Regions from separate parts of the Homo sapiens genome. Here all the other regions are linked to region 1. The links come from fine-mapping of genetic effects on gene expression. A gene starts in region 1. Each other region holds a variant in brackets. All regions are shown on one strand. Distances are between the middles of the regions.

Region 1 (2,768 bases):
TGGGGGCAATGGCAGCTTGGAAAATTTCTTTGCACAGATAACTACACTACGTAAAAGTTTGCTGCCTTTGCAAACTTTGAAACGCCTACAGGAAGAAATGGGATAAAAACGACTTTGGCCGGGCGCGGTGGCTCAAGCCTGTAATCCCAGCACTTTGGGAGGCCGAGGTGGGCGGATCACCTGAGGTCAGGAGTTCGAGACCAGCCTGGCCAACATGGCCAAACCCCGTCTCTACTAAAAATACAAAATTAGCCGGGCGTGGTGGCGGGAGCCTGTAGTCCCAGCTACTCGGGAGGCTGAGGCAGGAGAATGGCGTGAACCTGGGAGGTGGAGCTTGCAGTGAGCCGAGATAGCGCCACTGCAGTCCGGCCTGGGCGACAAGAGCGAGACTCCGTCTCAAAAACAACAACAACAACAACAACAACAACAACAACAACAACAACAAAAGACTTTAACAGAGAATGATCAGTATTTTTAAGATTCAAGTTTTTAATAAACTTGGGAATGTTATGCTTTGAAGCATAACAGATAATTATCATTATTTTTAAGATTCAAGTTTTAGATAAACTTGGGAATGTTATGCTTTGAAGTTTTCAGAGCTCGTAGCTAAAGCGAATAGCTCAAATGTTCTCCAGCCTAAGGCTTAATGTGAATTTAGATTATTACTGAAACATTGGGAGGGGGTATTACTCTTGAAATCTTATACCTCCATCCACAGATAAGAACACTCAGTGCAAAGAATTAAAGCTGCCTAAGTCAAATTCTTTTTTAAATGGCAAAGTTGTTTTTTTAAGAGACAGAAAGTGAGGGCAGAATGTACCTCTGGGCAGAGAATATCTTGAGGGACAGGTACTCGGAGAAGAGGAGATACAAATAGGGATTTTTAAAAAAGCAGAAAACCACCAATTTCTCCTCAAGTGAAGGGGGGATGTATCAGGTTTAACTTTAAGCTCTCTTCTGCTCAATTGCTAACTCTATTTTGAGGAAAGGACCTTTGGAGACCCGGCAGATATGCTGTCTGCAAACAATCCGGGGGAGTAAGTTCTTCTGCCCCCGTCTGTCCCTACACTTTTCGCATTCACACCTTCCCCAGATCCGTTTCCCAGCGTATCTGCCTTCCCTCTTTCCTCCGGGTCCGTCAACGTCTCACCCACCCGCGAGTCAGGCCCCAGCGCCCCTCCGCCCGAACGCCCAGGTCGTCGGGCCGTCTGCGTCCGTCTGTCCTAGCCCGTGCCGTCGCGGGCCGCGCTCACCCAGGCCTCCGCTCTTGTCCGTGCAGCCGCTCCGCCCGGCAGCCGCCGCCGCGCTTTATATCCGCGGCCGCCCGGCTCGGGCCCACGTGCCGCCACGCCAGGGAGCCTGGGGGTTGTAGTTCTGCGCCGCCGCCCGCGAGGCGCGCCCGGAACCGCTGGCCCGGAAACCCCGAAACGTTTTGCACACTGGAGTCTGCTCTTCCCCGGGTGTCACCTGAACAACATGGGCTGAAGTGACTCCGGCGCAGCGCCCCGGCTCCCCGAGGATCGGAAGCATCCGAACTGGCGGCCGGGTGCCCGAGAGCACGCGGCTCACCCGCGCCACGCCGAGTGCAAACCTCCCCCTGCCTCGTCTGCACGCCAGTCCTTCCCGCGTGCGGGCACCTCCTGGGCTCCGCTGCGTCTTAATTTTCCTTCTCTTGCGCAGGGCTCTGCAATCCCCACTATCTCGTGGTTCTGCGTTGTGAGGTTTGGGCTGCTGTTTCCGAGGCGTACGGAGAATCCCAACTGCCCATCGGCGTTCAGGTCTCTTCGGGTTGACGCCGCTGCACCAGCCCTGCAGACTCTCGTGTTAAAGAGAGATGAGCGAATTTTAAAGTGAATTATCTACTCATACGGGAGCTTTCCTGGCTTCTTTTGGAGAACATTTGAAAGAGTTTTGAAAGGGAAAATTATTTTTAACCCAACCGCCTCTACTTTCAGGAGTATCAGGAGTCTTATTCTAGGATCATGTACTGTGTGAATAAATCAGGAACAGAGCCAGAGACAAGTCCTCAGTTTTCTCTTGCTGATGTGATTCCACCTCAATTTTCCATAAAAGGCGATGGCTGATGCTTATTATTACATTTAGAGAAACTAAATTGTTCAAAGGGCTTTCTAGTTTGCAAAGTGCTTTTAAATGTATTCTAATAGTTCTTTCGTTGCACAGAGCACCAGAGATAATAGCTAATAAGTACTGTGTTCAGTGCTTACTCAGCCTGCACCGTTCTAGCTGTTTTAACATTTAATTCATAAAATAATCCCATTGGTGGGTCCTGTTTTATAAATGTATATATTACAGATGAGCAAGGATCATTCCATTTTACAGATCAGAAACAGGTTTAAAGAGTTGAAGTAATTTGCCAAAAGCCATAGAGCTGGTTAAGCTGTGGTTTGATTTCAAGTAGTCCAGAAGCTTGTGCTTTTAACACTATGTTATCCTACAGGAAAAAAAAATACAAAAAGAAAAGAAAAAGAAAAACCCTTAGTTACATGAAGCAAGTTCTCCTAAGGCTGCAGCATGGTTTTTGTTTTGGTTTGGTTTTTGTAATATTAACAAGAATATTATATCCTAATGGTACAATGAAAGTTTTTTTTTTTTTTGGAAAGTCACAGTTTAATAAGTGCAAAATTAAGTATGTCAGTACCCAAAAGGTATAGGTCATTAGGCTTAACATTGTCAACCAACAAACCAATATTCTAAATGCATGAACTAACTACTTTTTGTATAAATATGGTAGTGCAAAGTAATTCCTT
Region 2 (2,768 bases), 150 kb before region 1:
GAGTGGAGAGAAATATTCAAAATGTTGAAAGAACCACCAAACTAGAATTCTGTATCTAGTGAAATTATTCTTCAAATGTGAGCAAGAAATACTTGCTCAGACAAAACAAAACAAACAAAACTGAGAGTTTATCATTAGTAGGCCTGTTCTGCAAGAAAGGTTAAAGGAAGTTCTTCAGGGAAAAGAAAAATGAGAAAAACTCATGTCTACATATAGTAAGGAACAATGTGGGAGAAGGAATAAAGGTAAAATAAATTATTTTATTATCATTATTATTATTATTTTATTTATTTATTTTTCTGAGACAGGGTCTTGCCCTGTCACCCAGGCTGGAGTGCAGTGACGTGATCATGGCTCACTGCAGCCTCGACTTCCCAGGCTCAAGTGATCCTCTCACTTCAGTCTTCTGAGCAGCTGGGACCACAGGTGTGTGCCACCATGCCTGGCTAATTTTTTTATTTTTATTTTTGTGGAGGCAGGGTCTCACTATATTGCCCTTGCTGATCTCAAACTCCTGGGCTCAAGTGATCCTCCCACCTCGACCTCCAAAGTGCTGAGATTACAGGTGTGACCCACTGTGTCCAGCCTCTATTTTTCTTATTGTTGATTGATCTAAAAGATAGCTATTTAACATAATAGTGGTAATGATTCATTAGGTAATTAAAGCTCATGGATTACTGAAATAAATGAAACAATATCATAAAAGATGGGAGGATAGAATTGGAATACTCTGTTATATGGTATCTGCATGACATGTGAAGTAGTATAGTGTTATTTGAAAGTGGACTTAAATTAGTTAAAAATATATGTTGCAATCTCTAGGGCAAATATTAATTTTTTAAAAAAAGAAGTATAATTGATTTAAGAGAGTAGATACAATGGAACAAAATAAAATGCTAAATTAAAACTAGAAGAGGCAGGTCTGGGTGTGGTGGCTCATACCTGTAATCCCAGCATTTTGGGAGGCCAAGGTGGGTGGATCACCTGAGGTCAGGAGTCCAGACCAGCCTGGCCAACATGGTGAAACCCCATCTCTACTAAAAATAAAAAAATTAGCCAGTTGTGGCGGTGCATGCCTGTAATCCCAGCTACTCAGGAGGCTGAGACACGAGAATCACTTGAACCTGTGAGGTGGAGGTTGCAGTAAGCTGAGATCATGCCACTGCACTCCAGCCTGGGTGACAGAATAAGACTCTGTCTCAAAAAAAAAAAAAAAAAA[A/C]AAAACAAAAAACAAAAAAGCAACCAAAACACTAGAAGAGGCAGAAAAGAAAGGGAAAAAGGAAACAAAGGACAAGTGCAACCTCTGTATTAATAGAAACCAGCTACAATATGGTAAATGTTAATTATGTCAAAATAACTGTAAATGTAAATGGTCTAAATAAAAAAGCAGAGATTATGAAAATGGATTTAAGAAAACAATATCCAACTATATGTGATCTGTAAGAAACCCACTTTATAAAGGTTCAGATATGTTCAAAGTAAAGGGATGGAGAAAGATATTTCATGCTCATGCTAATTAATAAAAATCTGGTGTGGCTATATTAATTTCAGATGAAGCAGCCTTTAAGAACTAGGACAATTATCAGGACAAAAAGGGACATTTCATGATGATAAAGGGTTTGGTTCTCCAGGAAGATGTAACAATTCCTTACCATTCCTATTCACCTTCATACTAGAAGTTCTAAATAATGCAATAAGACAAGAAAAAGAAACAAAAGGCCTACAAACTGGAAAAGAAGAAATAAATCTATCTTTATTTGCAGATGACATAATTGTCTATGTAGAAAATCCCAAAGAATCAAAAAGGAACAAAACTCCTGAAACCGATAAATGAGTATAGCAAGTTTACAGGAAGCAAGGTTAATATTCAAAAATCAACTGCTTTTTTATATACCAGCAGTGAGCAATTTATTTTAAATTTTAAAAATTATTGACAATAGAACCAAAAATGTGAAATACTTAGGTATATACCTAACAAAATATAGGACCTATAATGCAGAAAGCTACAATACACTGATGACAATAAATGGAGAGATATCTTATGTTCTTGGATTGGAAGACCCAATATTTTAAAAATGTCAGTTCTTCCCAACTTGATCTGTAGATCCAGTGCAATCCCAGTGAAATTCATAGCAAAATATTTTGTAGATATTGGCAAACTGTTTCTAAAACTCATGTGGAAAGGCAGGAAACCTAGAATAGCCAAAAAGTAGAAGGACTCATACTACTCGATTTTAAGACTTACTATGAAGCTGTAGTAATCAAGACAGTATGGTATAAGTCAAAGAATAGATTAATGGAAGAGACAGATAGAACAGTGAAAGGAAATAGAGTCCATAAATAGAGTCCTTATATAGTCCAGATTAGAGAGTCCATAAGATCCACACATAGAGTAGACTGACTTGACAAAGGGCAAAAGAAATGTAATAGAAAAAGGATATTCTCTTCAACAAATGGTGCTGGAATAATTGAATATCTATATCCAAAAACGTGAACCTAGATACAGACCTTTCACAAAAATTAACTCAAAGTGGTCCATAAACCTAAACATAAAACTCAAAACTATAAGACTCATAGGAAATTATAGATAATCTTGTGTTTGGCAGTGGGTTTTTAGGTACCACAACAATACTGTATGTTATGTGAGAGAAAAAAGTCATAAGTTGGACTTTGTTAAAATTGAAAACTGCTCTGAAAAATACACTATTAAGAGAATGAAGAAACTAGCCACAGATTAGGAGAAAATATTTGCATAATGCATATCTGAT
Region 3 (2,768 bases), 360 kb before region 1:
GAAAAAGGAATCCTTACATACTGCTGGCAGGAACGTAAATTGGTATAGCCATTATGGAAAACAGCATGGAGATTCCTCAAAAGCTGAAAATAGAACTACCACATAATCCAGCAATCTCACTCCTGGGGCTATACTTTAAGGAAATAAAATCAGTATGTCAAAGACAAATCTGTACTTCCATGTTTATTGCAGTACTATTCACAATAGCCAAGATATGGAATTAACCAAAGTATCCAGCAATGAATGAAATGATAAATAAAATGTGGTATACAGTATATACACAATGGAATACTACTCAGTCATAAAACTAATGAAATCTTGTCGTTTTTGGCAACATGGATGAAGCTGGAGGACACTGTGTTAAATGAAATAAGCCAGGTAAAGAAAGACAAATACAGTATGATCTCACTCATTTGTGGAATCTAAAAAAGATAATCTCACAGAAGTATAGAGTAGAATTGTGGTTACCAGAATCTGGGGAGAGGAGAGAAGAGGGGCAGATGGGGAGAGATTGGTTAAGAGTACAAAATTACAGTTAGATGAGAGTAGGTTCTGGTGTTCTATAGCACAATAGGGTGACTCTAGTAAATTATATTATAGTGTATATTTCTAAATATCTAAATAACTAGAAAAGAGGGGGCTGAATGTTCTCACCACAAAGAAATGATGAATGTTTGAGGTGATGAATATGCTGAACACCATGATTTGATCATCATACATTGTACACATGTATCGAAACTTCCCTCTCTACCCCACAAATAATGTACAATTATTATGTGTCAATTAAAAACAAAATAAAAAGTGCTCCCACTGGTCAAATACGGGACAATTAGAAATCAAAATAAAAATCAAGAACAATATGTTGTACCCCATTAAATAAAATAAGACCCCATGAATCTAAAATAATATAAATATGTAAGTAAATGAATAAGGGAGAAGCAAAAGCTTTACCTCCAGCATAATGCCAATTAATATATGACATATAGGCTGGGCGTTGTGGCTCATACTTGTAATCCCAGCACTTTAGGGGGCCGAGGCGGGTGGATCACCAGGTCAGGAGTTCAAGACCAGCCTGGCCAAGATGGCGAAACCCCGTCTCTACTGAAAATACAAAAATTAGCCAGGCGTGGGGGTGGGCGCCTGTAATCCCAGCTACTTGGGAGGCGGAAGCAGAGAAATGCTTGAAATCGGGAGGCAGAGGTTGCAGTGAGCCGAGATTATGCCACTGCACTCCAGCCTGGGCGACAGACTCTATCTCAAAAACAAAACAAAACAAAACAGCAACAACAAAAAA[T/AT]GTATTAGAAAATCTCCATTTAGTAGCCATCATCACTGGATACAAAAACTGGTGGACAAAAATGTGGGGAGTAACAGGATATTTATATAGTCTCAGAATATCTTCTCACAAAATACACATTTATTACAAAAGGTAACAGAGTAACTTTACAATGGAGACCTGGAAGACACGACCCTAATCAAATCTCAAAGTTAACATTGCCAGTAATGACTTATGTGCCTCCTGATTCAGTCAATGTATTATTAAAAAGAATTCAGCATCACTTCTGTGATCTCCCTGCCAAAAGCTTATAATCTGAATCTAATCAAAAGAAAACATCAGACAAAGAAAATCGAGGCTCATTCTTCAAAATAACTACCCTTATTCTAAAAAAATGTCAATGTCATGAAATGCAAAGAAAGATCAGGAGCTAAAAGAAACAAAGGAGACAAGACAGCTGAACACAACACATGATCTTGGATCTTCTTTTGCTATAAAAGATATTATCGAGGCAAATGGTATATTAGTTTTCTACGGCAGTCATAACAAATTACCTAAAATTTAGTGGCTTAAAAGAACACAAAGGGCCAGATGTGGTAGCTCAATCCTGTAATCCCAGCACTTTGGGAGGCCGAGGCAGGTGGATCACCCGAGGTCAGGAGTTCGAGACCAGCCTGGCCAACATGGCAAAACCCCGTCTGTACTAAAAATACAAAAACTAGCCAGGCATGGTGGTATGCACCTGTAATCCCAGCTACCTGGGAGGCTGAGGCAGGAGAATCGCTTGAACTTGAGAGGCAGAGGTTGCCGTGAGCTGAGATCACACCACTGCACTCCAGCCTGGGCAACAAGAGTGAAACTCTGTCTCGAAAAAAAAAAAAAGAACATACATTTATTATTTTATGGTTCTGTGGGTTAAAAGTCAGATGGGGATCTCTGCGCTAAAATCGTGGTGTCAGCAGAGCTGCATTCTATCTGGAGGCTCTGGGGAAGACCCATTCCCTTGCCCTTCCCAGCTCCTAGAGGCTGCCCCACATTCCTTGGCTCGTGCCCCCTTCCTCCTCCTTCAAACCAGCAATGGTGCAGAGTCCTTCTTACATTGCATCACTCTGATGTCTTTTTCTGTCTTCCTCTTCTTTTTTTTTTTTCTTTTGAGATGGAGTCTTGCTCTGTCGTGCAGGCTGGCGTGCAGTGGCATGATCTCAGCTCACTGCCCTCAGCCTCCCGGGTTCAAGCAATTCTCCTGTCTCAGACTTCCGAGTAGCCGGGGCTACAGGCACACACCACTACGCCTGGATAATTTTTGTAATTTTAGTAGAGATGGGGTTTCCCCATGTTGGCCAGGTTGGTCTCAAACTCCTAACCTCAGGTGATCCACCCACCTCAGCCTCTCCAAGTGCTGGGATTATAGGAGTGAGCCACCGCGCTCAGCTTCTGTCTTCCTCTTCTTATTAGAAGAGCATTTTGATTACATTGGGCCCACCCAGATAGTCCA

What was found.
Region 2: its variant is fine-mapped to the expression of NPL in whole blood (INTERVAL, PIP above 0.99).
Region 3: its variant is fine-mapped to the expression of NPL in whole blood (INTERVAL, PIP above 0.99).

Annotation. Positions count from the first base shown.
Region 1 is chr1:182,788,291-182,791,058 of GRCh38, reverse strand. NPL (N-acetylneuraminate pyruvate lyase) reads right to left here and starts at 1,286. Exons shown (of 13, transcript NM_030769.3): 1 at 1,254-1,286. RefSeq lists an enhancer at 1,133-1,633.
Region 2 is chr1:182,934,587-182,937,354 of GRCh38, reverse strand. All of the region lies in intron 5 of SHCBP1L (SHC binding and spindle associated 1 like), which reads left to right. Among named protein-coding and RNA genes, the nearest start is that of SHCBP1L, 17 kb to the left of the region's middle. The variant A/C (reference allele first, on the strand shown) is at 1,220.
Region 3 is chr1:183,151,872-183,154,639 of GRCh38, reverse strand. No RefSeq gene overlaps it. Among named protein-coding and RNA genes, the nearest start is that of LAMC1-AS1, 12 kb to the right of the region's middle. The variant T/AT (reference allele first, on the strand shown) is at 1,295.